Homo sapiens: one gene and its partners. The protein of the gene in region 3 purifies or fractionates together with the protein of the main gene of each other region. This does not show direct contact. Each region holds a gene or a part of one and is shown on either strand. Other genes may lie near its edges. The genes, in order: TSSK4, ITIH4, BRWD3, NOVA2, NEURL1, WDR13 and DSC2.

Region 1 (3,969 bases), on a different chromosome or scaffold from region 3:
ACTTGAGCATTTAAACAGCACAAAGATGTAAAATAATGAGCATATGTTGAGTTGAATAATAAAGCTTCCCAAAATAGAGCGTTAATCTGAGCACCCCATCCCCTAAGAGCCACATCATGAATTACACTATTGATTTAACACAGTGTCAAGATTATTGGTTACAGGCTCTGGGCAGAAATCTATCTCTTACTCCAGCAGTGTTCCCTGCTATAAGATTGCCTTGAGAAAAGAATGTCTTTGACCCTAGTTGATGAAACTAAATCAGACTTAGATTTATTTTTGGTAAAAAAGATTTTTAGCCCAAGACCTCCTGCTTTGCTCCTCTCTTAGCCCCCTCCCTCAGCCATTTTCAGGTCGTAATTTGCAAGGATTGGTGCTGTTTAGTGGTGTTGTGGAGCTGGCACATGGCCTCAAGCAGCCTGATCTCATGGGTGGGTTGCTCAGGCTGGAACTTGAGCACCCAGGAATCCTTGATGATGTCCAGAATGGTGGCACGCTTAGTGGCTTGGCGTAGCATCTGGAGGATCAGGTTCTAGAGCAGGGGAGAGAGAGGTCTTGCCTGAGTTTTTCTCCATTGTGCCACACAGGCAATGAGCAGTTGGACCTAAGAAAGAAGCAGGATAGCCCATCATACCACTCTGGTCAAAGTGGGTGTGGCTCTGATTTTATCTTGGAGACCCAGGCAGTTAACTCCCTGGAGGGGAAGGGAAGAGTTCCTTGGGAGGAATGCTTTCCATATTTCCCTTCTGGCCTAAAGAGAAAGAAGCTGGAACCTGTGTATCAGGCAAGGTTTGGAGCCTAGTGGTTGGCCCTTTATGCCTTCCATACTGTTTATTATAGGACAGGAGCTAGTGTGTGAGATGGCTCTGGTGTGGGAAGAGCCTTTCCCCAGGGTTGGGAGGCCTAGGTTGGGTGACCTAGGTTGGATATTCACCCCTCCCTGTGGGTCATCCCTGAAGGCTCAGCCCTCCTTAGGTAGCCAGTACCTTGCACTCCTGGGAGATGGTATGGTTAGCTGGGAAAGTGACCTCCTTCTGAGTCTCTCTTAGCAGCTTTTTGAGATTGGTGTCATCAAAGGGCAGATGGGCGACCACTAGAGTGTAAAGGATGACGCCCATGCTCCAGGTGTCAGACAGGAAAGGGTTGTAGGGCAAGCCTCGTAAGATCTCTGGGCAAGCGTAAGCAAAGCTGCCACAGTAAGTCTGGCTGAGGTGGGAAAAGCAGTTCACTTGGCGGTAAGAAGGGCTACAACCCACAGGCTGGTTAGAAGGCACCATCTTGGCAAAGCCAAAGTCTGATATCTTCACATTCTCCCACTTGTCCAGCAACAGGTTCTCCAACTTTAAGTCCCTACCAGCAGCAGAAAGGCTGGGCATCAGGCTGGGGAGAGGGCTTAGTTTTAGACTGGGAGCTGAAGGGCCAGGGGTCAGAGGGTAAAGATGAGGACAGAGGAAGTGGGAGGTAGAAACCATTATGAGGGCACAAGGTAGAGAGGAAGGAAAGCCATGGAGTTGTGAGCAGAGCCCAAAGTAGGGAGAGAGACAGAGGATGGTATCTGAGGACCACCGGGAGCTCACCATTGTATTTCATAAAATGCTTTGCATACAGTGAGTACTTTATCAGTATCCTTGACCATATGATTAAAATAGAGTGCATGAATAGGCTAGATATTGAGGAGGGAGTTCGAAAGAGGAAAAAAGGACAGGAAATGGGAGATGTGCATAAAACCCCCTTGAGGGCAAAGGCCCCAGTCTGGGTGGCAGCGCCCTCACCGGTGCACGATGCTCTTGCTGTGCAGGTAGGCAATGCCCAGGGTCAGCTGGGAGAACCACTTGCCAGCAAGGGGCTCAGAGCAGGCCCCGTAGCGCTGGATCCATTCAAGGACATCACCACCCTGAGCCAGTTCCAGAATGATGTATACTCGAGATGTGCTCTCAATGGCCCGATAGAAGTTGATGAGGTACTTGTGCCGCAAGACTTTCATTACCTGACCCCAGAAGAAGGACCCATCAAACCTGGGAAGGGAGAACCCTGACTGCACTCCCAGCCGTCTCCTACCCTCAGCTACTGACTTAGGACTTTGCAATAGGATCAGCCCCTCAACCCCAGAGAACTGGTGGCCTGTGGGCAAATGCTATGTTTTGTGCCTTTACTTTTTGGGGACTGAAGGTGAGTGGGTGGATGGGAAAGAGGTTTAACTTACATAAAGTTTCCTAGCTGCTTAGTGAGACATTTCAGTTCTGGTTTAGGGGTTTCTGGCCCCACCCCTCCTGGCCATACCCCTTCTGAGAAACCTCAAGCAGCTTAGTACCAAGCTCCAGTTCCCTCTTCCAGCCCCCTTTCCAACCTGTATTTCACGGGGCAGGAACTTGTTAAGATAGTCATCAGAGGCCTTCTTCTTTGAGATGATCTTGACTGCCACCATAACCTTCTGCTTTGTGTAGAAAGCCTCATATACCGACCCATAGGAGCCATGGCCAATGGCCTTGCCCACCTCATAACCATATTCATCCATGAGGGAATGGTAGGCTGTGGTGGTTGGTGCTGCCTCTAAGACATCTCCCTTCCCCATGGTGTTGGGCTTGCTGAGAGCAGGGAGCTTTACTACTTGGAAGCCTCCTATCCAAAGGCCAACACCTTGAGCTGCTGAAGGCTAGGGTATCAAAGTGAAGTAGGTCCCCAAATGCTTGCCTATATAGTCACACGAGTCTGGGATGCTGGACTCAGCCCTCCACTAGGAACTTGGAGGGGGAAAGAAAGAGAAGCAGTTCTTTTTGTCTCCACTGGCTGTTGTTACTTTCTCCTTTTGGTTACGGAACTCCTCAAGGTCCCATGTTCCGAATACATCACAATCCACCTCCTATCCATCGTTGGCCACAAAACTTGAGAATGAAGTGCGGCCGGGCGCGGTGGCTCACGCCTGTAATCCCAGCACTTTGGGAGGCCGAGGCGGGCGGATCACGAGGTCAGGAGATCGAGACCATCCCGGCTAAAACGGTGAAACCCCGTCTCTACTAAAAATACAAAAAATTAGCCGGGCGTAGTGGCGGGCGCCTGTAGTCCCAGCTACTTGGGAGGCTGAGGCAGGAGAATGGCGTGAACCTGGGAGGCAGAGCTTGCAGTGAGCCGAGATTGCGCCACTGCACTCCAGCCTGGGCGACAGAGCGAGACTCCGTCTCAAAAAAAAAAAAAAAAAAAAAGAGAATGAAGTGCAGTTGGAAACGTACTCATTCCCAGAGGCACCTTCCACAGTCTGGTGAAACTCCTAAAGATCAGACCTTTCATTGATATATGAGTACCTACTAAGTACCAGACACTGTGCTGAATACTTGGATAAAATGTCACCCAAATGTCATGCCAGACCCTTCCTCCTTCCTCAATCCCTACATACAATCTTTCATCAAATCCTGTCTCTGCTATCTCCTACTTATCTCTTTAATGATACACTCAAGGCTTTCCGAGCCCATTGCAGCCCCCTTAGTTCAATAAGGCCAATAGAGACACTATGATCCTAAAGCTTATAATGCAGCATGAGAAATACGAGTGTGAAAGTATTACCATTGTAAGGTATTGAACATGTTCTAGGAAAATCTAACCTTGAAATGCATCCTTATCTTCTATGAGCCAGAACTCTCTAGTTTTCCTCCACATCCTTCTGGTCACTCCTCAGCCTTCACTGAAGTTATATCTTTCTCTATCCATCCCTTAATCATATCCCAAGTGTTACATCACAAGCTTTATTTTCTCAAACCTTCACATCCTCCCTTAATCTTGTCCATACCCATGGTGTCAATACTACATTTATGCTGACTGCTCCTAATTTCATCTCCATCCCATATATCTGGAGTTTAGATAGAGCAGCCAGTATTACGTGGCCATGTCTGCCCCAGGCATGGAACTTACCATATCCATCTCAAACTTAACCATATCAATAATTGAACTTATTTTCTTCTCTCAGACTTTTCTGTG
Region 2 (3,500 bases), on a different chromosome or scaffold from region 3:
ACGGGCAGGGCCCTCACCCACAGTGGGGTCGCCATCGGTGAGCAGGATGATGAGTGAGACACTCCCTTCGGGCAGCCGCTCCTCCTGGTTGCTGCTGTCCAGCAACTGCACAGCCATCAGCATTGCATCATTGATGTTGGTCCCTGAGGAACACGCACTCTCAAGGTGGTCCCCAGCCAGGAGCCCTGGAAGCCCCCACCCTGCAGGGCCACAGAGACACTTACCTCCCAGGGCCTGGATGCCCGCAGCAAAGCTCCTGGCCTTGTTCACGTTCTCGGCTGAGGCTGGCACCAGTGATGGCCTCCACTGAGTTGCTTCTGTACTGAAGACGATGAGGTTGAACTGGTCTCTGGGGCTGAGGTCATCCAGGATCTTGATTAGGGCTTCCCGGGTCTGGTCAGGGAGAGGAAACATAGGTGCTTCAGAAGGGCTCCCTGAGGGCTCGTGTGCCCTAGGGCTGGCATCCTTGGACTCCTGTCTCAGGGGTGAGGTCATGGTATCTGCTCTAGGAACAGGGGCTGCCCTAGGCTCTGGCCAACCTTGGTTCCTGAGAGCCACCCGCCCCATGGTGCCGAAAGGTGAAGCAAGGGGGTCTGCCTGCCGGACCACAGCTGATAGCGTGAAGGGCCTGGGAGTTTTCAGGGCCCTGCCCTGGGCCACAGGACCTACCTGCTGGATTTTCCTGCCACTCATGGAGCCGCTCTTGTCAATGACAAAGACCACATTCTTGGGCATTGTGGTTAGGCCCTCGGGGGCAAAGTAGTGTACAAAGTAGCCGTTCTCGATCTGTGGCCAGAGTGAGACCCACCCAGGCCATCAGAGCTACAATTGGCCCTATCCCCATTCAGCCCCTTTACCCCAAATTCTGGGTTTCTGTGCTCTGTTCCAATCCCATTTCCATCCCACTGCTAACCTCCCCAAAACCTTGCCCTTTTTCAGGGCTCAGACCAGCCCCTTTCTTGCGGAAGCCTTCCCTGCTCATGCATAGCCCACCAGAACTCTCCCTGCAACTTTTCCTTCTATTTGTTTTAGTATTTCAGATGGTTTATACTAAAAAGTTCAGACATCATAAACCTGACAACCATCAAAAGAGGGAAGACTTCAAAAACATGGAGTAAAAGGGAAGTATAATAACAATGGCAGAAATGGCTGGGTGTGGTGAATCACGCCTGTAATTCCAGCACTTTGGGAGGCTTAGGTGGGAGGATCACTTGAGCCCAGGAATTCAAGACCAGCCTGGGCAACCTTGTCTCTACTGGAAAAAAAAAAAAAAAAATTAGCCAGGTGTGGTGGTGCACGCCTGTAGTCCCAGCTACTAGGGAGGCCGAGGCAGGAGTTTCTTTTGAACCTGGGAGTTTGACGGTGCAGTGAGCCATGATCATACCAAAATATAACAACAATAATAATGCCAGAAACTAGTGTGAAAGAAACTACTGCAAATCTGCATAAAACTGAGTTGTGAGCCTCCCAGCAGCAGAGGCAAAGAGGGAAACCCCACAGGGCAGCTCTTCTCAGAGACAAACCTTTTCTGCCTGGGAAAGGGAATAGTTTCAGGGACAACACAACTAAATCACGTGTTTTCTGTCTGTGCCGGTCCCTGGTGCACACTGCTAAGTAAGGGTGGTTCTTTTCCTGTTCTAAAATACCCAAGCTCAGGCCCTTGGGGGTGGACAGACTTCTAGGCTGCTCTGCTCTTGCCTGAAGTCCACCCACCTGAATGGAGCCCCCGGAGATGGCCCGGTCCACATCATAGCGGATAATGAGGTTGCCGTCCAGGACTGTTTCTTGCTGCTCTGGGGACTTTTGCTGCTGGGAAAGTGTTGGCTTGAACCGGATGTGAGCCTGGAGGAATAATCCGGGCTGAAGTTGGGAGGAACAGCAAAGCCAGGCCAACAACACCCTCTACCCCTGTCTGTATATTGGGAAATCAGAATTCCAGGATGCAGCCTTGGGTCCGTATTCCAGGGCACTTTCTTTCAGGCTGAGTTATTGATGGACCACTTTCACGTAGGGGAGGGGTGTGATGAGCTCCCTGTTCCTGGAGCTGCGCAAGCAGAGGCTATTCCAGGATGTGTGCCATCCAACCATCTCCTTCTCTCCACCTGGCCCCAGGACCCTCACATCAGTCTATTATCCAGCCCCTTCCCAGACAGATCTCAGGGCTCATACGAGGACGCCATGGTCCTTCTCTAGGCTTTGCCCTCCCCATCTGCCAAATGACAGCAAGGATGCAGAGATCTCAGGAGCCTCTCCAGGTCACAGCTCACAGGAGGGAGAGCCCATCCTGCTTTCCAGAAATCCGGGCTCATAGGGCTGGCCTGAAGGCAGGGCCCTTGGTACCCTCACCTGCTGACCACAACAGGCCCACCTTGGTCTTATTCTGCCAGGTGGTGAGGGCGTCTACCAGCTGGTTGGTCATGAAGGTGCTCTCTGTCTCCAGAAAGCTGATGCCCTGGGGCTCGAAGATGTGAATGTCCATCTGGAGGCAAGATGTGGGTCCCTGGGTCAGCCAGGAGCCTGGGCTGGGGCTCACAGGAGGCTCAGGGACAAAGAGGGGCCGCCCTCAGCAGGGCAAGGGTCATGCAGGAGGCCTCCCTGGAAGAGGTAGCAGCAGGTACCTGCAGGTGCTTGACCAGCTGCTGGGGCCGCACTTTCAGCAGCAGCTCGTACACCCCCAAACGCCGCTTGAGCAGCTCCTCATAGACCAGCTCAAAGGTGATCTTGGCATTGGGAGCCACACTGACCGACACCTGGAACTGCTCCATGTTTCTCCCGGTGGCCCTGGGGGAGAAGGGCATCAGGCCTGCTCCTCCAGGACAGGTGGGGTAAGGCTGGTAGAGGTGGGAGCAGGACTAAGGGCCAAAGGCAAGGTGGCCTTTGTCTAGACCCTCCCCACTGAAGCTGCCCCCCACCAGCTCACTTGACGAGGCCAGCGCTCTTTCCCTTGGCCACTGCTGCGCTGTACTGTGCCTGGGCTTCAGCCTTCTCCTTGATGATCCCTGGGTAGGTCATGCCATCGATGATCCTGGGGGCAGAAGGGTGGGAGTTGTTGAGAGCCTGGTGGCAGGGGCCCATTCCACTCCTGCCTCCTCCAGAGAGCCTTTCTGGACTCGGTGTGCCTCTTGACACAGTGACTCCCATCTTTGCCTGAGCCCAGTGCCATTTATTATGCACCTACCGCATACAGGACCCTGTGCAGGGCACTCTGCAAAGTGCTCCAGGCCTCTAGCTCCCGGAGGTGTGTACAGTAACAGTAAGCATTCATTTTATAGAAGGGACGAAGGGGAGGCTGCAGAGGGGCAGGGCCGGGCTAAATCCTGCCTTCTCTCCACCTGTCCAGTCTGGCCGAAGCTGGCCCACATTCCCACCTGCCCCTTCCATTTCACGGACTGTTCCAGGGGAACTAGTTCATCACCAGCAAGAGCTCTCTGAGTCACACTTGTTCCCAGCCCTGCGTGCAGCCGTGTGGGGCCAGGACTGAGGAGGAAGCAGACGTAGGG
Region 3 (3,959 bases):
AAACCTGTATCAGTCATTAAGTGTTAAAACATATTAGTAGGCACTGTTGTTTTTGCCTCTTTTAGGGGGAGGGAAAGACTTAAGTCCAACAGAAAGACTGACTACAAATTAACCTGGCAGTACATGAAGTTTTTCAAAACTAATTTTTCTCCATCTGAGAAATTGTTACTATTAATAATACAGATGGTCGAGTTTACCCTTATCACAATTATACCATTTTCTGTGATTTGCAAAATATAAGAAAACTATACAGTCGGTAGACTTGATAATAATAATGTGGCCTCACTGTTGTAAGATAACACAAACAAAAATAACAAAATGAACATTGAAGCAATTTAAATATAGTCTTATTGCAAGCAAATTTTAAATCATTTATATTTAGAGTCTATCATACACCGCCAACTTTCTTTAACTTTGTCCGATTTTCCTCCACTTGGATCTTACTTGAAGGAAAGATAGCTGAATTTAGATTTTAGTAACATCATTCCTTTCTCCTTTCACTACCCTCCAATGCACTGTGGCAGCAGCTAACACAAGGGAACCTCCCCCGCAAAATAAAAAGGATCACCTGTTTTTGTGTGTCAATGCTGAACACAAGGTACATTTATACTATGAATTATATTTGCAGGAGAAACAACATAGACCAATGCCTTTGGTCCTTCACTAAAGTATATTCCATTTTTAAATATGTCCATTGTTGTCTCCTTGTAAACCCAAAATCGTGTTTCACCAATTCTCAAAAAGTGATAACTCAGTTTCTATTTAGTGAAAACGGGTCTATGCAAATGCGACTTAACTGATAATTGAATGAGCTTATAAAATCGGAGATACGTAACGATTATGCTTTTACTCAGTAGACCATTACCTAACCGGCAAAATTTGAAATTGGCTTGACGCTCCTTATTATTTTTAATTATGTCGTTTTTCCTAATCCCTGGTCCGTCAATTCCCCTCCAGAGCCCCTTCCTCCCACGCCTCCCCCCTGCCCCCCCGCCCCCCCCAAAAAAGACCAAGCCTGGCCTTAGTTCCCGTATTTCAGGCCAGGACCAACCAGAAACCAGTTTTCTTCCACTAATCCGGAACTCCGGGCTGTTACCAACGCTGTCATTGGCCAGCGTCAGACCTTAGTACGTGCCCCAAGATAACCCCTTGGTTTCTCTCCCTTTTCCGCCTACAATGGGCCTTCCCCAATGTTTGTAACATATTCATAATCCACAACACGGCACCTCTGATAATCAACTCACATTCTTCAAAGTTTTCGGGTGGAAACAAGCAGGGCCAAGGGGAGGGCAAGGTACCCTTTTTCCGACTAGCAGGGATGGGGGAAGGGGCAGTCGTTCTTTGGCTCTGCACCGAGCTCTAGAACCTCGTCGGCTGAGAGGTGGGGGGCGGGTTGGGGGTACAAGGTGGGGAGGGAGTGGTGAAAGAGTTAGGTTAAGTTGAAATGAAAACTTTACTCACCAGATCCTCGAAGCTTCTTCGGTGCTCTTTCCCCTCCCAATCTAAGCGGCGCGGAATCAGCTGGGGGCCGGACGAAAAGAAAGGGGGAAGCGGAGGCAAATGATGAAGGAAAAGCCTCCGCTCCCCATCAACTGGACCCAACCTGTGTCCCAGTCCTCAACACTTTACCGTCTTTATTTCTCTCGGCCTGATAGCTATTGGCTCAGAGCTAGACAAGTATATGGGGGGGGGGGGGAAGGGGGGTCGAGAAGGAAATCCTGAAAAACTGCCTCCCACAAGCATAAAGCGGGGACGAGTTAAGACCCCAGCGTTGTCTGCCCCTTTTGAGGGAAGAAGCCAATTCACCCCGGTGACAACAGCTACGGGTACCCAGATCGAAGCCTCTATCCCAGCCCGTCTTCCGCCCCTGACTTGCCCTCCCCTTCCTCCAGTCTCACCTCAACCCTCCCCACCCTTCCCGAAGGGGCTCCGTACCTGATGCTCCTCGAGCTCCTGCACTAGCACCTGAGCAAAAGGGAAACACAGATATGAGGAGCAGCTCGGGCCATCAACCCATTCCTCCCTCCACACTTAAAGCCCAGCCGCTGACCGTTTGACTAGTCAAGGCCGGCCTTTCCCTCACCCTCAACGGAACTGCTCGTCCCGCTGCCTCGATTTCCCCACTGGGACCATTCACCACGACTCCCAGATCTCTTTCTTCCCCTTACCTGAGCGGATTTGTTGCAGGGTCCAGACTGCAAGAACCTAGCGATCAGGTAATACAGCTCTGGGGAAGAGGGGGGAAAAGAGGTTCAGAGGGAGGTAGAGAAGAGAAATAGAAGCTTTTTCAAAAGAAACTGACAGCCTTCGCGCTAAGCCCCCATTCCCTTAGCACCCCCCCACCCCCCGACACAGCTACCCACCGGCTTCGATCTGGGTAGGTGCTGCCGCCATCCTTTTCCCGAGGGGGTTTGGGGGCTTCGCTCCGGAGGGGCTGGCGGGGGCGGGTGGGGGCGCTGCCTCTATTGTGGTGAAGCCCCCATGCCCGGGAGTCCCGCCGCTTCCGCCGCACTCCTCGTCCTAGTTTCGCTCTCTCTCGAATTCATCGCATCACGTTTCGACCCATAGATATTCTAGCCCAAGAGCTGAGGAGGCGGAGGAGGAAGGAGAGGAGAGGGAGAGGGAGAGAGAGAGTGAGTGAGTGAGAGAGAGAGAGAGAAGAGAGAGAGAGAGAGAGGAAAAAGAGAGAGAGAGAGAGAGAGAGAGAGAGAGAGAGAGAGAGAGAGACGCGGGGGGTGGGGGGGCGGAGAGAGAGAGAGAGAGAGAGATAGACGGAGCGAGAAGAGGGAGGAGCCGAAGTGGCGAAGAGGTGGGCGGGGGCAAAGGGGGTGGAGAGAGGGGAGGGTAAAAATGGTGATAGGGTTTTGCAGCGCTCATAGTTCCCCGCTAGAGGCACTAATACAGCAGCTGAGCCTAGACTCTCCCGGAGCCCGATGGTTGCTTAGCTACAGCTCTGGGAAGGAGGGGGAGGTGCTAACTGACGGCCGACGCTCTGGCAGCCGCCTTGGAACTCTGTGGTGGCATTCGCGTCTGCGAGCTCCGGAGTGACTTTCCCTTCCTGTGAAGGCAATCCGGCCCTTTCCGGTGGAGGACCCTTCCCCCTGGGTTGATCTTGAGGAACTTAAGAGACGGTGTTTTGACTCGACTCCTTTCCCCTTTTTCCTCCCGGTACCAAAGCGGTTTTGTTTGCTGTTTATACTCTACCCCGTGGAAAGGCGGCTAGCTGGCTAAAGGGTTTTATGCCTGGGGGAGGATGAGTCGCTATTTGGTCGTGACTTGTTTCTGTTTAAAATTATTATTATTTACCAAATGAAAATGTTGTACTTACCAGTCCAAAGTGCGGGGCTTATATTGTTAGAAGACCACTTAAAATGCTCCTGGATTCTGACAAATATTGCATGAGAAATTTGCAATCAGCCGTGAAGCATGTTTCCCCTTCTGAAAGTTTAACACGTGCCGTATCTACGGCTGGGATCTAACACATCCCATTCCTACAGGGTAATTTCCTATTGTGTTTTCAAATACTACTAAAGTACTTTAACCAAGAGTTTTCAATAATCTTTATGTATTATTGCCTATCTCTATGCAAGGTATCAATAGTTTTCTACAGGTTCGGGACTACACTGTTTAATATATAACCCCAACCCTTGGTACCGCACTGACCTTCAGTATTTGGTTGCTGAAATCTTCAATGATGAAAGGGGTTGGTATGATAATTGACACAGATTAGTAAACCGGGTCCTTTTCTTCCCTACTTTCCCGTAACATCCTGTCCCCACCCCACTCCCTCACCTAAACCTGATGAGACCAGAAATGCATTTTAAGTTGCATGTATTATTTACATTGAAATATTACAATTTGAAGGTTCATCTAAATTTAAGGCTATATTCTTGGGAATTGGGTTTCCTCACTCAGCTCTGCCACTGACCACAGTGGGCCTTGAATTTCTAAGTTGACAT
Region 4 (3,500 bases), on a different chromosome or scaffold from region 3:
CTTTCAGTTCTAGATCTGAGGGAAGCCATGGGAGTAGAGGTAGCAGAGGCGTCTGAGCTGAAATGGGGCATTTGGAGCAAGGACCCCAGAGTTCCCAGATCTTCTCAGCTACTCTCCTCCCACTGGAGCTGTCCCTCCTAGGTGGGAATGTTCACTCTTTTGTTGTCAGGTTGTATGGGGGGGCAGGGACAGTGCTGCTGGGAAGGATGCCAGCTCTGGGATTGGGCCAGTCCTGTGGGCAAGACTTGCAAGAGGCTGGATCAACTTGGTGTGGTATCTCTGATGGCTTAGAGTAATGGCAATGAGGGTCTCTGTTGTGATGTCACTGAGTACTTTCTGGGGTGCTTCTGGGCACCCCTTATGATGTCACAGGAAGCAGTTCCTCAGAGGTTACTTCCTGTGAACATAAGGGAGCAGGTACTTCCTGTGATGTCTCAATGAGTTCTTCCTTGAAGGTCACTTTGGTGATATCATGGGAAGGTGTACTTCCGGTGATGCCTAGAGGTCACGTCCTGTGATGTCATTAGGCTGAAGCATGTACTTCCTGTATTGGACAGTGACCAGTCTCTGACCTGCCTTCTCCCTCCACACCCTTCTTTGGTGGGTGTTGGCCTGGGGGTCTTCCTAGGAAGAGAATAAGGCACGGGACTTGGATCCAATCTGGAGGACTCTAACGGAAAAAAACCAATATTGTCAGGGTCATCTCCATTCAAACACGTCAAGTCTGCGAACTCGCCCTGGAGGGAGGGGTGGGAGATGGACCTAGTGCAAACTACTGTTAAAGACCTCCCTTCCCACCCCTGCCTTTTGTGTGCATGCCTGTGTCTGCGTGGCTTTGTTTCATTGAATCGGGTGAGCCAAGTGTGTGGTGGCTCTGTCAGGCCAGTATGGCCAGGTGTAGAGTTCAGTGAGCCATAGTAGGGTCCCTTGGGCCAGAATGCTTCGTGTGGTCTGATAGGTTAGATTGGTTTGGTGGCTTCCAGCAAGCTGGCATACTTCGGTGATGTCTGATGGATCAGAATGTTTTGGTGTGCTCACCAGGGGCTCTGGAGAACTAGAATGTTCTGATGGAGTCTGACAAGCCAGGCGGCCTTGAGAGTTGGTTTAGGAGTGGCTCCCTGAGTGCTGTGGCTGTGGTCAGCTCTAAGGACCTGTTGGCAGACTGAGATTTCAGGGCCTGACAACCATGTAGACTAGGATAGCTGAGACCTCCCTCTACCCCCACCCATCTCCCTCTCTTCCTTGGAGACCACCTCCACTTTCTCCAACCCAAAGCAGGGCGCCCAGTGCCCTGGTTCCATCATCAGCATCTCTGGGGGAGGGGCGCCCCATGCCCACCCTCTCCCCCATTTGTCCGCCTCCTAGGTCTTCCAAACCCTTTTCTTCTCTATGACTTTGGGGGAAATCCAGCCTCCTTGTCTCTCTCCTAAAAAAGGAGGGAAGAAAAGCCACAGAGACAATTCCTGCCCCTAAAGCCTAGGAGATCCCTCTCCCTTGCTAGAGAGCCACCCCCAAATCAAAATGTGAAAATCCCTAGAAAGCAATAGCCTTCGAGGTACCTTGCACTGAATTTCCCACCCCAGCCCTTCCACCCGATGGGAGGCTGTAACTTGGGCACTGGGGTGACTTTTTCCATGCCCTTGTCATCTCCAGGGTGGGAGGCAGGCCCCACTTCCCCTCCCCTATCCCCCACTTCCCATTGTTGTTGCCCCACCCCTAATCTCCAGACTGAACCCAGATGGAGATCTGAGTGCCAAAACAATTCTTGATGTAACTTTGTACATATCTTCTACTACCGTTGGGGGCTCTTGGGGTTAGAGGTGGGGGCGGCTCTGTGGGCCATTGCTCCCCTCCACCTCTCAAAAGACCTTACAGTATTTCACAGTATCTCTACCCGCACGCGAGTATTACAGTATCTAGCTGGAATATCCCCCTACAGCCCCCCAGGACCCTATGAGGAAGGGAAGGAGCCAGGGAGAGTGAAGTAAGGTCTGGGACTGGGGAGGTGGGATCTGAATGAACTCATTTGCATATCATTTGCATCCTCCGCTTGGCAGCCGCTTTCTACAAACTCATTCACTGGAGTCTGGGTCCCAATCAGCCGGGTCCAGGACTCCTCTCACACAGACACATCTCCGGAGGCTGGGCCTCCTGAAAAGTGTTTGCTTGGGGTGTCTGTGTAACAACCCCTCCCTATTCATATTTCTTGGGGACCCCCTACCCAGCCAGCCAGGGTGATCTGAAAGGTATACTTTGCTAGCTCAGTGAGCTAGTTCACTCACCATGTTGGTGAGCAGAGAGCCACACCTTTCCCCATTTTACCTTGGGAAACTCACTCCACCATCTTTGCCATCTCTTGAAAGTCCCTTCTGCAATCTGACCTCAATCTTTTGTGCTGCAGTTTGTCCAGAGGGGACACAGATGTGGGGTCAGGGATGAGGATTATTGAAAAACCCATCATCTCTTTTTTTTTCCCCGTCTCCCTATTAGCCAATCCGATCTCAGAGTCTCTGAGTGGCCTCCTTGCACCCTTCTCTTCAGCACCCAGTAGGTGCTTAATAAGTGTTTGCTGCATTGGATTATCTCCCTATTCCTTCTCATTTGCCCTCTAGCTTCCCATACCTTCTCCAAGTGTCTTCCTCCCTTTCTTTGTCTGGCTCCCTATGACTTTCTATTTTTTTTTCCTCCGTGTGGTTCCCATTGTTTTCTGTCCTGTCTCTATCTTAGTCTTTGTCTGTCTTCCTCCTTTCCTCAAATGTCTCAACTCTCTCTCCCCAATTTCCCCATTTAAAAAAAAAAAAAAGTGCCAAACTTCCTTGGAACTGAGCCGCTCTGGGGGGAGAGGACCTTGGATAGAGGGGAGGAAATGGGACCATTTCTCTTTGAGGAGGTCCCTAAGAGGCATTGCAAAAGTGTGGACATGGAGCTAAATTGGGTCCCCCTTCCACAGCCCTCCCACCCTGAGTTTTTCTTAGAATCTTTGTAAGAAAAAAAAAAAAAGACAGAAAAAAGCTCTCCTTTTCAACTTACCCCTATCCTTTTGGGTCCCCCCAAATTCCACCAGCCAAGGAGAATCCCACTTGCCAACTTCCTGGCAAATCTATGGAAACTGGGGAGGAGGAGACAAGCTCAACTCCTCCTCTGCTAGCCCAAGGGGCGGTACCAACTGGATTCAAGAGAAGGACCTCAAAGCTCCTATGAGAAGAGGGGGTTCGATGTGCCAAATTAACCTCCTTCATCCCCCATCTCAGGGGGCTCTGAGCCAACCTGCCCAGCCACCTTCTTCTGCCCTGTCCCAGCCACCTCTACATGGGCAAGGAGGCTTCACTGCAATAATTAGTAGGGGTGGTGATCAGAAGACAATGATTTTGCCGTTTCTATCTGCCCTAACGCCTACCCTGGACTTGTAGTTGGGAATTATGGGTATCCCAAGTGGATGTTGATAAAAGCCGACCTATAGATGGTTGGGGACCTCTACTTGGAACACCAGGGTGTCGCTT
Region 5 (3,500 bases), on a different chromosome or scaffold from region 3:
TCCTGGGCTCCTTCCGTCTTATCCCTAGCAGCTAGAACAGCGCCAAGCATTCTGTTGACAAACAGTAACCGTCTGTCGAGTGCACTGACGAAGGCCTAACATCCTGGAAAGCCAGGGAGCAACCACCCCCCAGCAAACACACAGACACCCTCTTTGCGTACATTGTCTCATCTAACCTTAACAATCACCTTTTGAGGCTACCATTGCCATGTCAGGACACAGGCTGAGAAGTAGATCTATCCAAGATACCCTTTTGAAAGTGGCTTAACAGGGAATCAAACTCATCGTTCTTTTTTAAATCATACAAGTTATACAAAATATAAAACGGTATTTTGTAGAAAATTCAGTTCAGCAAAAAGAAAAAACAATCGCCTATAAGCCCACCACCCAGAGAAAAGCATTTTTAATATTTGGATGTATGATCTTTTGGCCTTTTTAAAGGCTGTATTTTTGGGTTTTTTGTTTGTTTGGCTTTTTTTTTTTTTTTTTTTTTTTTTTTGAGACAGGATCTTGCTCTGTGGCCCAGGCTGGAGTGCAGTGGAGATATCTCAGCTTACAGCAACCTCCGCCTCCCAGGCTCAAGCCATCCTCACCTCAGCCTCCCAAGTAGCTGGGATGCACCACCGCGCCCAGCTAATTTTTGTATTTTTGGGGTAGAGACGGTATTTCGCCATGTTGCCCATCTGGTCTCCAACTCCTAGGCTCAAGCGATCCTCCTGCCTCAGTCTCCCAAAGTGCTACGATTAGAAGTGTGAGCCACCACACCCAGCTGGTTACTTTTTTTAGTGCAAAAATTGAGTCATGCTATATAAACATCACTTGTTTTTTACCTTTTATATGTACTACATCACTTTGAAAATGTGATGACATTGACCCTTTTCCCCAGAAAAATGAACATTCTCACTAAATTCTGTAGATAATTTCTCGGCATTCATGAACTACATGAAGCCATTCATGGGCAAGGACTCCAGGCTAAGAACCCTGGTAGCTTTTTTCAAAATTTTCAAAAATTTAACTCCTGGGCTCCTTCCATCTTATCCCCAGCATCTGAACACCTCTCCGTGCCAATAACTGTTTCCAACACCATATTCTTCTAATGGCTGTGTTATGTTCTGCTTTATGGAGTCCTATAACTTTCAATAAAAGTGATCACCATGTTCCATGAATTACCCCTGCAATTCATCCTTACGGCAGCCCGTGGAAGTGTTCCCGTTTTACAGATAAAGCTCAGCGGCGTTATGACAGCCGCCATGTGGCAGATCCAGGATTGAAAAAAAGGTCTGTCCAACTCCTAATGCCGCATTCTTCACTTCCAGACTCTCCTTGTTTATTGAAGCCTTTCTGCGTGAGTCAATCTCTCCAAATATGCCTGGTGCCACTGTAAGCCGCACCATGGACCGATCCCTTCCTTTGGGCCTTCTCCCTGAACCTCTCCAAGGGAGAATCTGTGCTGTCTCTTCAGGAACTGGGTTAAGGATGGCTGGGGTTCTCAGGTATGACAGCAAAGCTTGGGGGATTGGTCTGGTAGGGACAGCAGAGGCCAAAATTCAGTTCCAACTGAATGTAGACATGGTCACTAAACCTCCCTCTTTTCTTTCACCCTTTCACTGCCCCTTCCAGGAACTGTGTTGTCTGGCCCCCAGAAAGCTCTGGGTGTGGGCCCTTCCCCCCAAGCCTCCTGAAGCTCTGGAGAAGCCTCCTGGGGCCTGGCTGATTGGGGTTTCCTGGAATCGTGTTGGCGAGGAGGAGGGAGCCGGCCAGAAAATGTGATTATTCCAGGGAATTGACTCTGTGACAGTGATGGTGCATAGAGGCTGGGGGGCTGCAGAGAGGCAGAGGCAGAGGCCAGGAGGGCCTGTGCAGGGGGGAGGTAGGAGAGACAAATGGTGCAGAGTGGGGGAAAGCCAGTGGGCTGACCTGGACCCTGGGGAACAGTCCCTGCTCCCTCACCCCTCTGGGATTCCAGGCACTGACCCTTGGGAACTTCAGAGGGTGGGAGACAGAGAGGGGAAGGGGCAGTAACAGCAGGGAGAAGAGGAATCAGGTCGCTCAGAGATGTCCAGCCAGAGCCTCCAGGAACACAGCTGTCACAGGGCCCACACCACCCCCTCAGGACAATCAGTCCAGAGCTCCTGGGGCTGGGCAGACCCTCAGAACAGAGCTCTTAATGGGGCTGGATGCAAGCTATCCTGGTCTCTCTGCCCCTTCAGGAGTCCCCTTCTACTTAAACATGCACACTACCAGGTGCTCACTAACTTCCAGGCAACCTGTTCCATTGTGGAGTTAATCTGTCTTTAAAGAGTATTTCCTTCTTTTAAACCAAAATCTACCTCCCTGTATTTAACCCACTACCTCCTGAGCTGCCTATCAGCCCAGTACTGAAGACAATTCTCAGGGAATACTCAGAGTCCCCACACACCTTCCCACCTCTTAGATAATGAACAAAACCAGACTCAGTACTCTAGATGTGCACCAACCAGCTCAAGGCATAGTGTGGCCATCACCTCCCTTGGTATATATGCTATACTTCTAATAATGCAACCTAAAAGTACATTAGGTTTTTTTCAGTAACCAACATTCATATACTAGTAGGCAGGACAGGAGCACAGTTAAGTGCAATGAATTTGAAGTCATCAGTCTAGGTTCAAATCCTGGCCCTGCCATTTCCTGTATGACAGGGCTATATGACTGGACAAATAGCTGAACTTCTTGGGGCCTCTTCAGCAGTGAAATCAGCATCTACTGATTTACATAAAATCTGTATCTAATACTCCCCTTAGAAGAGACGCTGTGAGGATGAAAAGGAGTAAGGTACACAGGGCACCTAATAGGAGACCTGGCACAGTCATTAGGTTAATATAAGCCGTTGTTATTGGCATGTGAAATGCCACATGATTCAGAAGAAAGTGCATGGGCTTTGGGGTGATCCAGGTCTGGATCAGGCCTAGGTTTAAATGTCTGATCCAGCACTTGGCTGGTGGCTTTTGGGTAAGCAACCTTCCTCCCAGCCTCAAATTTCTCACCTAGAGAATAGGGGTAATAATACCTGCCCTGAGTTGTTGTTGGAAAGATCCGAGGTAAAGTGGGACCACCCCCAGCACCCAGAAGCTACCCGATAACTTCAGATATTAGTATTTGCTTGGCTTGAGCACAGTCTCAACTAAAAGTCAGGTACACCTGTCCTCAGACCATGGGCTTTTTGAACCTTAATGCAGGATTTCACATCAGTCATGATGGGTACCCAGGAAATACTCATTGAATGAAATCACCAAAGACCAAGAAGCAGCAGCTAAAATGTAGAGGTGAGAGGATAAAGAAGAAAGAAAGGAGAAACAGTGGAGGATGTACAAAGAGAAGGGGGTAGGAAGAGGATCCCTTTAGCCTTGCTTGAAATCTTGCTAGAGTTGGGAGGGGAGGGACAAAAGCTGCTGGGAAACAGCTAAAAACGGAACGAATCCCTAGGGCCAGTGCCCAGCCCAAGTCTGTCTTCTCTCCCTCTC
Region 6 (3,500 bases), about 32 Mb from region 3:
GGAAGCTGAGGCCCGAGGATCGCTTGAACCCAGGAGGTGGAGGCTGCAGTGAGCCAAGATCATGCCACTGCATTCCAGCCTGGGCGTCAGAGCAAGACCCCCCCCCCCCCGCCAAAAAAAAACCAAAACAACAACAACAACAAAAAAAACCTCTGGGTGCTGAGTCTCTAATTGAGCTTCCTTGGTCAGCAACATTTCGCATGTATTGTCACAACCCATTACTGTGAACCGAGCACATCTTGTGTGACTCCAATGAGAGAGAAGCCCTGGAAACTTGTGCCTGGGTCTCTCTGGGAGTTGGTCCTGCACACCATTTCTTTTTGCTGATTTTGCTCCATATCTTTTTGTTGTAATAAGTCAATCGTAGCCATGAATACAACCACATACTGAGTCTTGGGAGTCCTCCTAGCAAATCACTGGGCTTGGGGCTGGTATTGAGGACCATGACACACACACACATACATGACCTTTACCATGGGAACAATCCAGCTCACTGATGTCCCTATCTCACCACCATGTACCCTGAGGTCTATTAGATGGAAGTGCCAGTTAGAAATGCTTGGGGTGCAAGTAACCACACTGTCAAATAACTGGACTGAACAAACGGGAGATTATTTCCCTCCAACAAGACTGTTGGTGCGAGTTCAGCAGCTCAGCAATGCTGGGCCAAGCTGGAGTCTCTACCACGCTGTGGACTGACCCTAAGGTCCCAAGATGTCAGTCGCAGTTCCAGTCAACGCATATGTGGCAACAAATGGAGCTGAGAAGGAAGGGAGGGGCCGGAGCAAGAGCCTCTTTGCTGCTTCAGGTAACTTTGACATTTTCTGGTGACGCAGGCCACTGATAAGTGATTTTGGTTATTTACCCCCATCAATACTCAAAGCTTTTTCTCCTCTCTTGGGGCTCCCCTCAAATACTTAACATCACTTTTTGGTCTCTGAGCTGTTCCAGGGCTGGAATTTGTACCCTGGATGGGGCTGGGAGGAGACAGGGGTGGTCTGAGGGATGGAGATTCCGCCACACAGCAGGAGGCCCCAGGTCAGCCTTAACTTCCCGTTGCTCCTGCACCAGCTTGGGGCTCCAGGACTCAACACCTCTGCTCCCTGCTTTTAATAAACAACACAATGCACAGAAGGGTTGGGAATATCGCCCCCTGAGGAGGCAGCAGAGTCCTGCAGCCTAACATAGTGAACCCCCTGGGGGTCCGACCCAACATTCCCCCGCCAACTCCTCCACTGTCACTACCCTGGTGCAAGTCCCCATCACTGCGCTCAGAGGGGTCTCCTGCTGGGTCCCCTGCTTCTACCCCCACCCCCAATCTGTCCCCTTCAGCAGCCAGAGGGAGCCTCTATGACCAAGTCAGATCATGTTCCTCCTCTGCTTGACACCTTCTGGTCACCCCCACTCAGAAAAAAAGCCAAAGTCCTAACTGTGGCCCATGAAGCATCTGGCCTGTCTGACCTCATGTACTGTCACACTCTGGTCCAGCAAGACTCTGGCATACACAATGATCCTTCTGGAGCGCTCCAGCCTCAGTGCCTTTAGGCTGGCTTTCTCTCTGCCTGGAATGTTCTCCCCCTACACTATGACTCCCACTCACTTCATTCAGGTCTTTAAATGTCACCCTGAGCCAGGCGTGGTGGTTCATGCCTGTAATCCCAGCACTTTGGGAGGCTGAGGCGAGTGGATCGCTTGAGCCCAGGAGTTCAAGACCAGCCTGAGCAACATGGCGAGACCCCGTCTCTACTAAAAATACAAAAATTACCCGAGTGTGGTGGCACACACCTGTAGTCCCAGCTACTTGGGAGGCTTAAGTGAGGATCACTTGAGCCCTGGAGGTTGAGGCTGCAGTGAGCTATGGTCATGCCACTGCATTCCAACCTGGGTGACAGAGTGAGACCCTGTCTCAAAAACAAAAAAGTCACCCTGTCAGGATCATCTTCCCTGATGCTGTCACCATAAAGAGCCCACTCCCCCAACTTCTGCAGCTCTGTCTCCCATCCTTGCTTTATTTTCTTCATACCACTCATCATTAGCTGGCCTGTTCCATGTTTTTATCTACTGTCTCCGCTATGATGCAAGCCCAATGAAGGCAGGCATTTCCATCAGTTTAGGTCAGAGCAGTATCCCCAGTGCCTAGAACAGTTCCTGGCACACGGTCAGGGCTCACTAATGTCTATCGAATGCATAAGTGTGTAAAACAGTTAAGGCAGGGCCTGTAACCCAGCAGACATTCAATCAATGCTTGTGGAATGAATGAATCCGTCGATGCATGAATGCACAAATGAGTCAATGAACCCCGTTCCACCGTGTTCCTGGAGCTGCCCGCTGCCCTCTGCCCTGTCCGTCCCCGGCAGAGCTGGGAGCCGGCCCTCAGCATGACCACCGAAACTTTATTTACAACACGAGGCTGGAGTAAGAGGGGTGGGATGGAGGACAGCAGCAGGGCCGACAGGACCCTACTTCTGCTCCCGCCTCCAGACGATGACCATGCCGCTGGCGTCACTGGAGGCCAGTAGGCTCTCGTCGCAGTTGAAGCTGACATCAAGCACAGGTGCACTGTGGCCCTGCAGCTTGTTGACAGCAGCCTTGGCCGCCCGCTCCACATCAAAGAAGTGCACGCACATGTCCTCACTGCCCGTCACTGTCGGGGTGAGAGGGAGAGGCCATCGGGAGGCGCCTGGGGTGCCCCTGGTGGGAAGTCCCTGAGGTGTCTGAGGTGTTGAAGGGTGTATGTCCGAGGTGTGAGGTCCTAGCATGGCTTGGGGAGGTTTGAGGGGGCCCCATCCCTAGATGGGAGGTCACCTGGCTGTTTTGGTACTGTGTGCAGAATGCGAGGTCTCTGGGCTGTTTGGGGAGTTAGTGCGTTCAAAGTGTGAGTTTTCATCACTTCTCGGCCTTTTGGCCGAGATCAAGTGCAAACTGTGAGTTCTCTGAGCTGTTTGGAGCTGTGAGTTCCACAGTGAGGCTGTTGGGGCAGGAGGGGTCATGAGGTCCAGGAAGTCAGGGCATCGGTGTCGTGATGTCTGAGCCAGGTTGGCACCAGCCCTGGTTCCTGCCCCTCCCCAGCCACCCAGATCCCCTGTCCCTACAGGACTCACCCACGCAGGCCCCCTGGCGGAAGGACATGAGGGGACAGAAGATGCTGCGCACAGGATGTGAGCTCTGCTCGATGGGGAAGCTTCTCTTCAGCTGCAGGGTCCCCTCGTTGTCTACCACCCTGAGAGGATGAGAGAGTGGGTCAAAACACAGCCCCAGCCCTAGCAGGGAGACAAGTTGTGGGCCTGTGTCCCCACCCCTGTGCCTAAGTTCTTTACAGGGTTCATGAAACCCATATTTTTTTTTTTGTTTTTGAGACAGGATCTCACTCTGTCACCCAGGCTGGAGTGTAGTGGTGCGATCACGGCTCACTGCAGCCTCAACCTCCTAGGCTCAAGTGATCCTCCCGCCTCAGTCTCCCGAGTAGCCGGGACTACCTATAGGCACACACCACACCCAGC
Region 7 (3,500 bases), on a different chromosome or scaffold from region 3:
AATTTACAAGTGTCAGTATAATGAATTTTAAGTTTTTGGCTCTCCCCACGTGCATACATTACTGTTAAAACTATATCCTATGTTTTACTTTAAAAATGATTGCTGTGCATATTTTCTACAGTTAACCTGAAAGAGTGCTTTACAGCTGCAAATCTAATTCATTCAAGTGATCCTGACTTCCAAATTTTGGAGGATGGTTCAGTCTATACAACAAATACTATTCTATTGTCCTCGGAGAAGAGAAGTTTTACCATATTACTTTCCAACACTGAGAACCAAGAAAAGAAGAAAATATTTGTCTTTTTGGAGCATCAAACAAAGGTATACAAGGCTACATAAATGAAGAAATGATATCTTTTCTTCAGACGTAATCAACATTACCAGGGAAGATATGAAATCAGAAAGGATATGGTATAGTTTGGCTTAAAGACGAATGAAAACCATGAGGCAACTTCACAGTGTTTAGAAGGAAAAGGGCTGTGTCACATGGTTCATTCGGGTTGTCATTCCTTTTCATTTGGGACGTAAAAGGAGAAATTGGGATAAGGTACAGCATGGGAAAGTGAGATTAGACACAAAGCAGCATTTTTTTTTTGAGCTTTACCGTAGAATGGATTTCTAACAACAAGTTTTGAAACTCTGTATAAAGAAAGGAAAGCTTTTTTCTCGCATTCATTTTAGCATAATCTGTGGTCTTAAAACATAGATAACTATTTTAGGAGGAGGTTTGGACCACATGCATGCTATTGTGTTGTGACACCCAAGATCAAAATAACTTGTATTCAACCATTAGCCATTCCTCACTGCAGCAGTTTGAGAGTTGTCACCGTGTTTCTCTCCTCATTCTGACACAGATCTCTCTGTTGGTTCCCTGGCTCTGCCTAGTTGCTGGTGAGTGGAAGTTGCTTGTGCTAAATTTAGAAGGGCACATACACACTTATTTTCTTTGCATATCTCTCTCCCATGTTTTTGCATGGCAATGGGGCAACAGTAATTTTTTTTTCAGTTTTGCTTCTAGGCTTCCAGTTCCATCTCTCTTTCTTCCATATTTCCACCAAATCATTTTCCCAAGAGGATTGTTGTGATAACAGTTAGGACAGTTACTTCTTCATTATCTTTTTGCAGTGTTGATGATTAGTTTGGTTTTCAAGCACTCCCATGGTCTCACCCCTACCCAGCTAATCCTCCTGAGAGGAGAAAGATGTGTCATTGTTTAATGTTTGAGAATAAAGTAGTCATTGACTTTATTATTTTTTCCTGTCTTATGAATTGAGGTCCTAAAGAAAAGACATACTAAAGAAAAAGTTCTAAGGCGCGCCAAGAGAAGATGGGCTCCAATTCCTTGTTCGATGCTAGAAAACTCCTTGGGTCCTTTTCCACTTTTCCTTCAACAGGTACCGTTTTCTTTCTTTCTGCTGTGGGAGTCTATAGTTTCCATCTCTTACCATTATGACACTGAGTATGAAGTTATTTGTAATAGTTGTGTATAAATATGTGAGTGAATGAGTATGTGTATAATATGTTTCCATATAAGGGTATAAATATATCTCTTTATACTTGCATACACTTTTGTTCAGCTTGCAAAGGCCAAGCATAAAACTGTGGCACTCAGACACATGGTTCCTTAATGAATTGTCACATCAGCAAGGGTATCGCCAAGCCTAAGAATAGCTAGAAAACCCAAAACTCTCTTGCATAATAAAGGAGAAAATTGGATGAAAGACCAAATGCCACGAAGGAGGAAGACACATAGGCCCTTCTATCTTTCTATTTCTTGTTCTTGAATCTACATCTGAAATCACACTGGATCCACATTTCTTTCTCTCTCTCTCTGTCTCTGTCTCTTTTTGTTTCTTTTTTTTTGTAGCGATGAGATCTCACTATGTTGCTTAGGCTGGTTTTGAACTCCTAGGCTGAAATGATCTCCCATCTCAACCTCCCAAAATGCTGGGATTACAGGCATGAGCCAAGCATACCTGGCTCTTTTTCTCTGTCTTGTTTTAACTTTCAGTAGAAACCCCAGCAAGCCTTCTTGCCTTCTTCCATTACTGGTGGCTACTACATTCAGTCTATGACTTTGGTTTATTTTCCCTCAGTTCTTGACATAGCAAGGGAGAATCCTTTTTATACCCCACCAACAAATTTAATACAGCTGAGAGAAGAGCATATTAAAGTTGAGAAATTGTTAGAAAACAGTTGTGTCAGTTATCCTGATATAAAGATAGGATGTTACTGAGAGGATGAACACAGCTTGGAGGAAATTTGCTTTTCGAATCAAGGATCAGAATATTACACATTCCAAAATATTATTCCATTTCTATTCTCACTCATATTTTTTTTTTTACTCAGTTCCTATAAGGAAGATGTTGGCAAAGAACAAAAAACTCATTAAGGAAATTATTGTCCACATTTTTGCCCTGCAGACAGTACACTTTAAACTCGGTTCTTAAATGTTATGTTACATATAATAAAAACTCAGTTTTTTAAAACATTGACGACAGAATAATTTTCCATGCTCAGAATACTTTGTTTTCTAAGACAGGAAGAGTCTTAAGTGTTTTTTCCATGTATAGACACCATCTAGCCTGTCAAATATTCCTTTAGTTATTCTGGAGAACTAAGATGCACTACATTATTTTACTCATGCCTTGCTCTTGAAATTTCTCAATTGGACTTTCTTATTCTATTGCTGTTTTAATTTATATATAATAATAAATTAAGGGCAATTATTTAAACTAATAAAATGGCAATGAGATTTCATAAATATATAGATGAAAGCTCTGCTGAAATAAAGATTTGTCTCATGTATATAATATCTACTTTCTAGGTTCAATCTGACACGGCCCAAAACTATACCATATACTATTCCATAAGAGGTCCTGGAGTTGACCAAGAACCTCGGAATTTATTTTATGTGGAGAGAGACACTGGAAACTTGTATTGTACTCGTCCTGTAGATCGTGAGCAGTATGAATCTTTTGAGGTAAAGTCTAAAATGTGTGTACTGTATTAGCAATGATGATGCTTGGCCATTTTGTCTCTCATTTGCAATTCACGTAACCTTTTCTGCTTTCTGAGTTTGTCACCAATGCTCTGGCTACTCCCTAATAGCACATAATTGACTTGAAACAAAAAATATTTTCATAGAATAAATAATATTGGATTCCATTAGATTGTTCCTGGTATTATGGTTTTACTATTTTTTTTTCCCCCACAACAGTACCACTTTGAAGAACAGTTTTTTTTTTTTTTTTTTTGAGACAGCATCTCACTTTGCCACCCAGGCTGAAGTGCAGTGGCGTAATCTCGGCTCACTGCAATCTCTGGCTCCGGGGTTCAAGTGATCCTCCCACCTTAGCCTCCTGAGTAGCTGGGATCACAGGCACGCACCATGATACCCAGCTAATTTTTTGTATTTTTAGTAGAGATGGGGTTTCACCATGTTGGCCAGGCTGGTCTCAAGCTCTTGACCTCAGGTGATCTGCCCATGTCGGCCTCCC

What was found.
Region 1: the proteins of BRWD3 (region 3) and TSSK4 purify together in Homo sapiens (affinity purification with mass spectrometry, with the first as the bait; one large-scale study listed by BioGRID). This does not show direct contact.
Region 2: the proteins of BRWD3 (region 3) and ITIH4 purify together in Homo sapiens (affinity purification with mass spectrometry, with the first as the bait; one large-scale study listed by BioGRID). This does not show direct contact.
Region 4: the proteins of BRWD3 (region 3) and NOVA2 purify together in Homo sapiens (affinity purification with mass spectrometry, with the first as the bait; one large-scale study listed by BioGRID). This does not show direct contact.
Region 5: the proteins of BRWD3 (region 3) and NEURL1 purify together in Homo sapiens (affinity purification with mass spectrometry, with the first as the bait; one large-scale study listed by BioGRID). This does not show direct contact.
Region 6: the proteins of BRWD3 (region 3) and WDR13 purify together in Homo sapiens (affinity purification with mass spectrometry, with the first as the bait; one large-scale study listed by BioGRID). This does not show direct contact.
Region 7: the proteins of BRWD3 (region 3) and DSC2 purify together in Homo sapiens (affinity purification with mass spectrometry, with the first as the bait; one large-scale study listed by BioGRID). This does not show direct contact.

The regions. Positions count from the first base shown.
Region 1 is NC_000014.9:24,204,527-24,208,495, reverse strand, and holds TSSK4 (testis-specific serine/threonine-protein kinase 4), read right to left. Parts: upstream 2,801-3,969; 5' UTR 2,573-2,800; coding exon 2,348-2,572; intron 1,988-2,347; coding exon 1,773-1,987; intron 1,381-1,772; coding exon 987-1,380; intron 605-986; coding exon of another isoform or gene 533-604; coding exon 350-532; 3' UTR 248-349; downstream 1-247. UniProt on the Homo sapiens protein: Serine/threonine kinase which is involved in male germ cell development and in mature sperm function. May be involved in the Cre/Creb signaling pathway. Phosphorylates CREB1 on 'Ser-133' in vitro and can stimulate Cre/Creb pathway in cells.
Region 2 is NC_000003.12:52,824,173-52,827,672, forward strand, and holds part of ITIH4 (inter-alpha-trypsin inhibitor heavy chain H4 isoform 1 precursor), read right to left. Parts: intron 3,026-3,500; coding exon 2,921-3,025; intron 2,782-2,920; coding exon 2,619-2,781; intron 2,480-2,618; coding exon 2,369-2,479; intron 1,843-2,368; coding exon 1,714-1,842; intron 1,143-1,713; exon of another isoform or gene 1,033-1,142; intron 787-1,032; coding exon 670-786; intron 394-669; coding exon 225-393; intron 166-224; exon of another isoform or gene 144-165; coding exon 18-143; exon of another isoform or gene 1-17. UniProt on the Homo sapiens protein: Type II acute-phase protein (APP) involved in inflammatory responses to trauma. May also play a role in liver development or regeneration.
Region 3 is NC_000023.11:80,807,078-80,811,036, forward strand, and holds the start of BRWD3 (bromodomain and WD repeat-containing protein 3), read right to left. Parts: upstream 2,801-3,959; 5' UTR 2,395-2,800; coding exon 2,364-2,394; intron 2,228-2,363; coding exon 2,169-2,227; exon of another isoform or gene 1,966-2,168; coding exon 1,936-1,965; exon of another isoform or gene 1,731-1,935; intron 1,522-1,730; coding exon 1,462-1,521; intron 1-1,461. UniProt on the Homo sapiens protein: Plays a role in the regulation of cell morphology and cytoskeletal organization. Required in the control of cell shape.
Region 4 is NC_000019.10:45,935,866-45,939,365, reverse strand, and holds part of NOVA2 (RNA-binding protein Nova-2), read left to right. Parts: 3' UTR 1-3,500. UniProt on the Homo sapiens protein: Functions to regulate alternative splicing in neurons by binding pre-mRNA in a sequence-specific manner to activate exon inclusion or exclusion. It binds specifically to the sequences 5'-YCAY-3' and regulates splicing in only a subset of regulated exons.
Region 5 is NC_000010.11:103,580,705-103,584,204, reverse strand, and holds part of NEURL1 (E3 ubiquitin-protein ligase NEURL1), read right to left. Parts: exon of another isoform or gene 3,216-3,500; intron 1,767-3,215; exon of another isoform or gene 1,621-1,766; intron 1,494-1,620; exon of another isoform or gene 462-1,493; intron 1-461.
Region 6 is NC_000023.11:48,603,992-48,607,491, reverse strand, and holds part of WDR13 (WD repeat-containing protein 13), read right to left. Parts: intron 3,221-3,500; coding exon 3,102-3,220; intron 2,645-3,101; coding exon 2,460-2,644; 3' UTR 1-2,459.
Region 7 is NC_000018.10:31,088,922-31,092,421, reverse strand, and holds part of DSC2 (desmocollin-2 isoform Dsc2a preproprotein), read left to right. Parts: intron 1-121; coding exon 122-321; intron 322-1,274; coding exon 1,275-1,394; intron 1,395-2,827; coding exon 2,828-2,983; intron 2,984-3,500. UniProt on the Homo sapiens protein: A component of desmosome cell-cell junctions which are required for positive regulation of cellular adhesion.